Linked DNA regions of Homo sapiens. The protein of the gene in region 1 purifies or fractionates together with the protein of each later gene. This does not show direct contact. Each region holds a gene or a part of one and is shown on either strand. Other genes may lie near its edges. The genes, in order: PCDHB2, CLEC4A and SPSB4.

Region 1 (3,757 bases):
TTTTAACCCAATGGATCTTTTAGAGACACATCCTAATATTTATTATTATTATTATTATTTTGAGATGGAGTCTCGCTTTGTCACCAGGCTTGGAGTGCAATGGCATGATCTCAGCTCACTGCAATCTCCGCCTCCCGGGTTCAAGTGATTCTCCTGCCTCACCCTCCCAAGTAGCTGGGATTACAGGCACCCATCACCATGCCTGGCTCATTTTTTTTGTATTTTTAGTAGAGATGGGGTTTCACCAGGTTGGCCAGGATGGTCTTGATCTCTTGACCTCGTGATCTGCCTGCCTCGGCCTCCCAAAGTAAAATTATTTTTTAAAGCAGCCTTAGAGTTTACAGAAAATTGAGCAAATAGTACAAACAGTTCCCCTCACATACCGATTTTCTCCCACTCAAAGTTTCCCTGTTATCAAAATCTTGCATTACTGTGGTACATTTGTTACAATTGATGAGCCAATACTGGTAAATTATTAACTAAATTTCATAGTTTAGTGTTCACTCTTTGTGTTGTATAGTTCTGTGGATTTTGACAACGGCATAATGTCATGTATCTACCATTGTAGTATCGTAAAGTACCCCATGTTTAACCTCTTCATCCCCCTCCCTCTTCTTCCTAGCTATCACTTGTCTTTTAAATGTCTCTATAATTTGGCCTTTTTCAGAGTATCATGTAATTTGAATTATACAGTATCATTGCCTTTTCAGACTGGATTCTTTCACTGAGAAATATGCATTTAAGTTTCCTTCATGTCATTCTGTGGCTTGATAACTTCTTTATATTAACATTAAAAAAGAAACAAAAAGACAAAATTAAAAAACCTAACAACAAACAATGACATATATACCCTGTTTGGAAGCAGATTGAAGAAACCATCACTGAAAAGACATTTTTAAAGATAATTGGGGAAACTGGAATATTTACTGGCTATTTAATATTATGAAATTGCTCTTTGCTAGATGTGGTAATTGAATTGAGGTTATGTTGAAAGTTCTCCTAGGCATTAGAAAGGAAAATAATATTGATACATTTACAATAAGGAAATATCTGGCTGCTCTTGGAGAGTTTCATGAGGCTCAGACACATCAAAGTTCAGGAAAATGTGAAGTGGGAGCAGTGCAAAGAAAGAAATATGAGTAAGGAGACTATTTCAGTGCCCATTAAAATACTCTTATTTGGATTCTGTGCTTTTCCTGGGTCTCTGTTTTTCAGCTGGGTTTGAGTGTGATGATGGTAATCTAACCACCACTGAGTTGCACACATGCCCAAACTCTGAATAAAAATAGAACTTTCTTAGTCTAAGCCTTCTTTCCGAAGCATGCTAGGACTGAGATCACTCCCTTCCAGGTTCTGAAATTTATTTTTTCCAGTTTGAAAAAAAAAAAAAGCTTGGATTTGTGAGGGAAGTGAAGATTTATTTATTCTTGCCCTGTCTCTATGGGTGCAATGAAGAGCCTTTCGAAACGCCAATAAGACTTCGGTACACTGAGAGACACTACTTGAAAATACTCAATTTCGATTGCCATCAGCCTGAAAGAAAGCACTGGGATTTTCTTAAAGTTTAGGAGAAAATAAATACTCGGAAGAGACGCGGGGTGGCGCTGCAGCCTTAGAAGTAGCAGAAACAAAGCACCCAGCCGACGCTCCCTTACCCAGATACTCAGCTAAAGAAGCAGCAAGCAGGAAGAGGAGGCTTTCTAAGGCGGTCGCTCCGGGAAATCCGGGCCCTAGGATTGTCCACTCATCCCAGTATCAGCGAGATACGGGGAGATAGAGTTAGCGACAACGTGAGCCAGAGCTGGAGCACGTTTGGTGAGAGACCAGAAAGCAATGGAGGCCGGAGAGGGGAAGGAGCGCGTTCCGAAACAAAGGCAAGTCCTGATATTCTTTGTTTTGCTGGGCATAGCTCAGGCTAGTTGCCAGCCTAGGCACTATTCAGTGGCCGAGGAAACGGAGAGTGGCTCCTTTGTGGCCAATTTGTTAAAAGACCTGGGGCTGGAGATAGGAGAACTTGCTGTGAGGGGGGCCAGGGTCGTTTCCAAAGGAAAAAAAATGCATTTGCAGTTCGATAGGCAGACCGGGGATTTGTTGTTAAATGAGAAATTGGACCGGGAGGAGCTGTGCGGCCCCACAGAGCCCTGTGTCCTACCTTTCCAGGTGTTACTAGAAAATCCCTTGCAGTTTTTTCAGGCGGAGCTACGGATTAGGGACGTAAATGATCATTCCCCAGTTTTCCTAGACAAAGAAATACTTTTGAAAATTCCAGAAAGTATCACTCCTGGAACTACTTTCTTAATAGAACGTGCCCAGGACTTGGATGTAGGAACCAACAGTCTCCAAAATTACACAATCAGTCCCAATTTCCACTTTCATCTTAATTTACAAGACAGTCTCGATGGCATAATATTACCACAGCTGGTGCTGAACAGAGCCCTGGATCGCGAGGAGCAGCCTGAGATCAGGTTAACCCTCACAGCGCTAGATGGCGGGAGTCCACCCAGGTCCGGCACGGCCCTGGTACGGATTGAAGTTGTGGACATCAATGACAACGTCCCAGAGTTTGCAAAGCTGCTCTATGAGGTGCAGATCCCGGAGGACAGCCCCGTTGGATCCCAGGTTGCCATCGTCTCTGCCAGGGATTTAGACATTGGAACTAATGGAGAAATATCTTATGCATTTTCCCAAGCATCTGAAGACATTCGCAAAACGTTTCGATTAAGTGCAAAATCGGGAGAACTGCTTTTAAGACAGAAACTGGATTTCGAATCCATCCAGACATACACAGTAAATATTCAGGCGACAGATGGTGGGGGCCTATCTGGAACTTGTGTGGTATTTGTCCAAGTGATGGATTTGAATGACAATCCTCCGGAACTAACTATGTCGACACTTATCAATCAGATCCCAGAAAACTTGCAGGACACCCTCATTGCTGTATTCAGCGTTTCAGATCCTGACTCCGGAGACAACGGAAGGATGGTGTGCTCCATCCAAGATGATCTTCCTTTTTTCTTGAAACCTTCTGTTGAGAACTTTTACACTCTGGTGATAAGCACGGCCCTGGACCGGGAGACCAGATCCGAATACAACATCACCATCACCGTCACCGACTTCGGGACACCCAGGCTGAAAACCGAGCACAACATAACCGTGCTGGTCTCCGACGTCAATGACAACGCCCCCGCCTTCACCCAAACCTCCTACACCCTGTTCGTCCGCGAGAACAACAGCCCCGCCCTGCACATCGGCAGCGTCAGCGCCACAGACAGAGACTCGGGCACCAACGCCCAGGTCACCTACTCGCTGCTGCCGCCCCAGGACCCGCACCTGCCCCTCGCCTCCCTGGTCTCCATCAACGCGGACAACGGCCACCTGTTCGCTCTCCAGTCGCTGGACTACGAGGCCCTGCAGGCGTTCGAGTTCCGCGTGGGCGCCGCAGACCGCGGCTCCCCGGCGTTGAGCAGCGAGGCGCTGGTGCGCGTGCTGGTGCTGGACGCCAACGACAACTCGCCCTTCGTGCTGTACCCGCTGCAGAACGGCTCCGCGCCCTGCACCGAGCTGGTGCCCCGGGCGGCCGAGCCGGGCTACCTGGTGACCAAGGTGGTGGCGGTGGACGGCGACTCGGGCCAGAACGCCTGGCTGTCGTACCAGCTGCTCAAGGCCACGGAGCCCGGGCTGTTCGGCGTGTGGGCGCACAATGGCGAGGTGCGCACCGCCAGGCTGCTGAGGGAGCGCGACGCTGCCAAGCAGAGGC
Region 2 (2,903 bases), on another chromosome or scaffold:
TGTCATTTGCACAACATGGATGAATCTGGAGGGCATTATACTAAGTGAAATATAATAAGTCATACAGAGAATGACAAATACTGTACAATTCTACTTATATGTAGAATCTTAAAAAGTCAATCCATAGAAACAGAGGGTAAAATGATGGTTGTGAGGGAATGGAGGGCAGTGGAGAAAATCAGGCAATGTTGGTCAAAGGGTACAAATTTTCAGTTCTAAGATGACGAAGTTCTAGAGATCTAATGTGCTGGATGGTGACTATAGTTAATAATGATGCATTGCACACTTGAAATTTTTTGGGGAGTAGATCTTGCTTTGTGTTTGTTGATACCAATGGACAGAATGGAGTAGATCTTAAACGTTCTCACTACACACAAGATTGTTAACTATGTAAGATAATGGGTGTGGGTTAAGTAACTTGATTACGGTAATCATTTTACAATATATATGTATGTCAAATCACCACAGTGTAAACCTTAAATATATACAATTTTATTTGTCAGTGTATATATATATATTATAATATATATATAAAATATAATATATATATATGTCAGTATATATATACAATTATATATCAGTATAGTAGGGATGAAGAGAAAACCAGACAGGAGGAGACACCACATCATATAATTTTATTGGTAAATAATTCTTTAGCAACCAGATAAAAATTAAGAGAGACTCATGTTCTCTCCATGTGTGCACAATGGGGGCCTCCAGTACAGGCTCTGGCACATGAAAAAATGCTCAATAAATGCTCACTTTATGAAAAAGTGAATCAGTCAATGTACAGACCAATTCTCTCATAAGTAGAATAGTTGACAGACCACCTAAATTCTATGGACCTCCCTTACACATGAATAAGAAGAGCTTATTATCTATCCCTACAATGACAGATACCAATCCAACCACCTGTTCATGGAGAATGTTCAGTTCATAAGTGGATCTTCATCATCTCACAAACTGACCTTTGAGGACCAAGACAATTAACATCATTCCAGCCCCATCTTTTGGGTGATTTACGAAAATTTAGCACAACGCAGCGCTCATTGGGATCACTGGGCTCACGTGGATGCCAGAATCTGAAAGCGACAAAAAGGATGAGGGCATTTCTTCAAACAGAGCTTTGAAAAGGGTTAGAGACAGGGGTGAGGAGCGAGGGATGAATTTCATGGAACATAGGGTCAGATATGCCCAAATCCACCTTTCTGCTACTCATCATGCAGCTTCTCCTCCATCTGCATTTCCGGCATTTCCTTTGAAAACTGTGCCTATGTCACTCAATGTTCTCTACCTTACTGCTTTGAATATCCTCACCATAGATTTTCTAGAGGTTCTCTTCTATTTGTCCATCCTTATGTCCTGTTCCTATGGGTCCATCAACCTATAGGGTGTCCTTGTATGATGAAAAGATTTTACCCTGGTCCCACTTATCAATAGAGTTTTTTCCTTTTTTTAATGCACTGTTTTTAAAGTCTAGAGAACTAGTAAAATCTTTTGAATCTTCTACTTATCCTTGTTATTGGACAAGTAATTTAACTTCCCTGATTCTCAGTTTTTCTATCTAAAAAATAAGGACTAGAGTAATATCACTATTTATTTCATACAGTGGATATGAAGATCGAAGGTGGTAATCCAGTAAAGTATGTATTTTATGTAATTTATGTAATATATGTAAAGTATGTAATTTATGCAATTAAAGAATTACATAAATATGAGATATAAGATTATCAGAATTTAGCATTTTTGCTTCATAAGAAGCATTACATCTTCAGCCTGACTGGGTGTGGTGGCACATACTTGTCATCCTAGCAACTCAGAAGACTTGGGTGGGAGGATCAGTTGAGCCCAGGAATTCAAGGCTGCAGTGAGCCATGATTGCACCACTGCACTCCAGCCTGGTTGACAGAGTAAGACCCTGTCTCAAAAAAGAAAAAAAAAGCATTATTAAATCTTAATAATTGGTTATGATCTTAATCAACATGGGTTTTCACTATGTAGAGACAGGTAAATATACGGGTTAAAAGCACAGTAAGATCCACCTGATTTGAGAACAATTGTTGACACCACTGGGTGACCTTAGCTGAATTATCTACACTCTCCAAGCTCAATTTCCTCATATCTACAGTGGGAAAAATAACAATGTGTGCCTCATAGGGTTCTTGCGCAGATTAAATGAGATAATGAAATTATTTAACCTAGTACCCAAGAGCTAAAAGAAGAGTGAGCTATTTTACTTTTATAGCTGATAGCTAGAATACCCTAAGCTCTCTGCATGATCCAGGACCCAAGATTCTTTTATCTCATTCTATACTCACGTGGAACTTTCATTGTATGGTGTCTGATCAACCCATTGCCAATGTCGCTGACCTTCTGGATCTGAGAGCCCCACAAAATAAGCAGATTCTTCTTGCAGATTCTGGAAGATGAAATCCTGAGGGGGGAAAAGAAGGAGTCACAGCCTTTACAGTATTCAGCTTAAACTGAATTCTTAATACCTTAGAGAAACAAGAAGAAAAGGAGAGGATCCAGCAACAGCTGCATTAGAGCTCTACGTAGGAATGGGGATCTCTGGCTGAGCAGGGCAGAATCAAAGACATCGCTTGTAAGCATGATGTTCAGTACATACGGAAGGAATTTTTTTTTTTTTTTTTTTTTGAGATGGAGTCTCACTTTCTGTCCCAGGCTGGAGTGCAGTGGTGCAATCTTGGCTCACTGCACCTCTGCCTCCCAGGCTTAAGCGATTCTCATGCCTCAGCCTCCCCAGTAGCTGGGACTACAGGTGTGTGCCACCATGCCTGGCTAATTTTTGTATTTTTAGTAGAGGCTGGGTTTCACCATTTTGGCCAAGCTGGTCTTGAACTCCCGGCCTCAAGTGATCCGCCCGCCTTGGCCTCCCAAAG
Region 3 (3,657 bases), on another chromosome or scaffold:
TAAAGGCCCATTATACCAATTTTTAAAAAGAAAATTCATTATAATTTATAGACCAAAAAAAAAGAGAGAATAAAGCAAAATTCCTCCAAAAGCTGACAATGTTTATATCTGGTTAATGAGATAGGAGAAAGAGGTGAATTCTAGTTTTTGTCCTTTTTTTGTATTCTCTAAAATTTAGACATTTATTTAACCTTTTCTAATTAATGAGCTTTATTTCTTCAGAATAGTTTTAGATTTAAAGAAAAACTAAACAGATAGTACAGAGAGGTCCCATATGCTCACTCCATTTATCACCCTAGTTTCCCCAATTATTAGCATCTTACATTAGTATGGCACATTTATCACAACTAATGAACCAGTATTGATACATTATTATTAACTTATTTTAATAATTAATATTAATAATTGTTATTAACATATTTTTTCAGATTTCCTTTTTTTCTCAGATTTCAGTTTTTACCTAATATCCTTTTTCTTCTCTTTCTTTCTTTTTCTTTCCTTTTCTTTCTTTCTTTTTTTTTTTTTTTGAGATGGAGTCTCCCTCTGTCACCCAAGCTGGAGTGCAGTGGCACGATCTTGGCTTACTGCAACCTCCACCTCCTGGGTTAAAGCAGTCCTCCCACCTCAGCCTCCAAAGTAGCTGGGACTACAGGCGTGTGCCGCCACACCTGGCTAATTTTATTTTTTTAGTAGAGACAGCATTTCACCATGTTGGCCAGGCTAGTCTTGAACTCTTGACCTCAAATGATCCACCTGCCTTGGCCTCCCAAAGTTCTGGGATTACAGGTGTGAGCCACCAAGCCCAGCCCCTAATATCCTTTTTCTGTTCCAGATCCCATCCAGGATACCACATTATGTGGAATTGTTAGGTCTCCTTAGGGCCCTCTTCACTATGATGGTTTCTCAGACTTTGGTTCCGATGACCTTGCCGGTTAGGTCAGGTATTTTGTGGGATGGCCTCCAGATGGAATTTGTCCTTTGTTTTTCTCATGATTAGAGTGAGGTTATGGGTTTTGGGGAAGACACCCAAAGGAAGATTTCATTATATCATATCAAGGGTACACACTATCAACATGATAGATTAATATAATAGTAATATAATAATATAACATAATATAATATGATACATTACATGATTAGCTTTAATAGTTTATATGTTTTATTGATTTTGTTTTGTTTTTGTGGTAGTTTTTCCCAAAGAACCATCTCTTTAGTTTTTGCTTAGTTCTATTATTTCCCTATTTTATTATGCTCCATTCATTTTTTAAAATTTAATAGCATAAATATATCAGCCATGATTTCCTCTGAGAACTGCTGTAGAGGCACCCCGCAGGTTCTAGTATGTGGAATGCTTTTTGTTATTGTTGTATTCCAGATATTCTGCAATTTCTATATGGATTTCTTTTTTGATCTGAGTTGGGGTCAAGTTGTTTAAAGAATTTTTTAAAATGCCTAAGTGATAGGATTTTGTGATCTATAATTTTGTGATTAATTTCTAGTTTTCCTTCTGTGTTATCAGATACTGTATTATTTTTGCTTTTTTTGAAGTTTTGTTTGTGACCTAATATACAGGAAAATTTTTTTGATCATTCCATGAACACTTGAAAAGAACATGCATTCTTTGTTTTCAAGGTATAGAATTTGATGAACACATTAGTTAGATCTGTCTTATTAATTATGTAATTTGGTTTTTCTATGTCTTTACTTAATTTTGGTCCACTGGTCCATCATGAGCTAGAAGAGGGAAATTAAAATTACATGCCTCTGATGTGTGTCTGTCTAAGGCCCCTCCTTATATTTCCTCTAGCTTTTGCTCTGAATTTTGGTGCTATTTGGTGAGTTCGGTCTTCAATTGTGGATCGCATTCTTTATTATTATTAAGTATTCTTGTCTCACTTAAAACCTTTTGTCCTGAAATCAACTTTACTTGCCTAATATTAAGATTACAGTGCCTGCTTAGTTTGAGTTCACACTTCCCTGTTATGTGTTTGCCCTTCCTTTATTTTCAAAATTGTTAAATCACTTTGCTTTGGGGAATGTCTCTTATATGTAGCATATGGTTGGGGGTTTTGTGTTTTTCCCCAGTCTTATAATCTTTTTTTAGCAGTTTACTATGGCCATTTAATGACATGGTCAATATTTCGGTCTTAGTTTTACTATCATATTTCATGCTTTTATGCCTTTTTGCCTCTCTTGCTTTCTAACAAAATCTTTCAGTATATGATCTGTTTTATTTTGTATTATGTTCAAGGTTTGTATCTGCAAGATGTGTATTTTTATTTTTAGTTCTGGAGGTTACCTTTATAACTAGCCAAAATGGATTTAATCTTTTGTTGAGACCATGCTAGGTGTCTCCCTTCTGAAATAATCAATCACAAAATTAGTTTACAAATTTGGTTCCCATTTTTATCTGCTTTGTGGCAGCTTTTTTCAGGTGAGTTTGCTTGGTTTGCCATGTTTTGTCCTGTTCGTTTATTCCTTTCTTTCTTCTATAGCATCTTTGACTATATCCTGTGCTGGTTCCTCTTTGAAAGAGGTAAACCTTCTTGGATCAGCATTTTGCAGGAGACACATGTGGAGGAGGTACCAAGAAGAGGGCAGGATTGCTCCCTGGTTCCCAGGAACTTTGTTCACAGGGTTGTTGTAGTGACTTCCTTTAGTCTTTGCTTCTACTCTGTCAGCAGAGTTCTGCAGCTGTGGGCTTCTCCCAATTCAGAGCCCTCCTCTCACTCTGCCTTGCCAACACACTGCTTCCTGTGAAGATGGCGGGTCTGTGGTTTCCTCTGTTGGCCCTGCCCTCCTCTTCCCCCAGGGTGTAGGAGGCAGCTCCCACTACCAGACCACATGCCCTGTTCCCATTTTTTCTGATAAGGGATCATTAGTTTTTTCCTTCAGGGAATGCCAGCTCCTGGCTGGCTCTGCCAGCTTTGTCTGAGATCTGCCACCACAGGTGTCTTCTCTAGGTGTTTTCTCACAGTATTTTTGATCTTCACTGCTTTTGGTAGCCCTTACCTGTTTTGGGCAGCCTTTCCTTATAAGCTGTGTTTCAGGTTATAAATGTGTTCTAGTTTGCTGAAGAAGGAGTTTGCATTTCTTTTTTTCTCCTGGATTTTGGGTGATTTCGGATATGAAAAGGAGTAACTTTATTCTGCTATCTTAAAACTGCCTAGTGTTGCAAATTGTTATGTGTTCTGGTATTCCCTCAGATTGAACATTAGCCAGAGCTCTCGGAATAGGGTCAACATCTGCTGAAGCTGGGATCTGACAATAGAGAGGGAAGAGTATGAGAGTTAAGAATAAAATGGAATGGTGAAAAACCCACAGGATACTTGTCTGTGCTGTGTGGCAGCAGAGTTCTTTTCGTCCCTACCTGGACTTTGGCTAGGGGTGTACCACTGTCTGGGTGGGAGGTTGAGGCTGGGGAGGGCAGGGCATGAAAAACACCCATCCATCTCCTCATCTGGCTCAGGAGAAGTTGTTCTAGGCCCAGCAGCTCTCAGGCCAGGGAGGGGAGGGCACACGCCTCTGCTCTGGACAGGGCTTGGCTCTCCATCTCTCTCCATACCCAGGGCCCGTCCAAGTAGTCCGAGCTCCTTGGGTTCTGTCTGGTTTCCTAGTGATGGTGGCCAATTCCTTCTCCATGAAAACCAGGATCCT

What was found.
Region 2: the proteins of PCDHB2 (region 1) and CLEC4A purify together in Homo sapiens (co-immunoprecipitation; one large-scale study listed by IntAct). This does not show direct contact.
Region 3: the proteins of PCDHB2 (region 1) and SPSB4 purify together in Homo sapiens (co-immunoprecipitation; one large-scale study listed by IntAct). This does not show direct contact.

The regions. Positions count from the first base shown.
Region 1 is NC_000005.10:141,092,958-141,096,714, forward strand, and holds the start of PCDHB2 (protocadherin beta-2 precursor), read left to right. Parts: upstream 1-1,657; 5' UTR 1,658-1,833; coding exon 1,834-3,757. UniProt on the Homo sapiens protein: Potential calcium-dependent cell-adhesion protein. May be involved in the establishment and maintenance of specific neuronal connections in the brain.
Region 2 is NC_000012.12:8,136,319-8,139,221, reverse strand, and holds the end of CLEC4A (C-type lectin domain family 4 member A), read right to left. Parts: intron 2,435-2,903; coding exon 2,319-2,434; intron 1,083-2,318; coding exon 935-1,082; 3' UTR 615-934; downstream 1-614. UniProt on the Homo sapiens protein: C-type lectin receptor that binds carbohydrates mannose and fucose but also weakly interacts with N-acetylglucosamine (GlcNAc) in a Ca(2+)-dependent manner. Involved in regulating immune reactivity.
Region 3 is NC_000003.12:141,061,227-141,064,883, forward strand, and holds part of SPSB4 (SPRY domain-containing SOCS box protein 4), read left to right. Parts: intron 1-3,657. UniProt on the Homo sapiens protein: Substrate recognition component of a SCF-like ECS (Elongin BC-CUL2/5-SOCS-box protein) E3 ubiquitin-protein ligase complex which mediates the ubiquitination and subsequent proteasomal degradation of target proteins.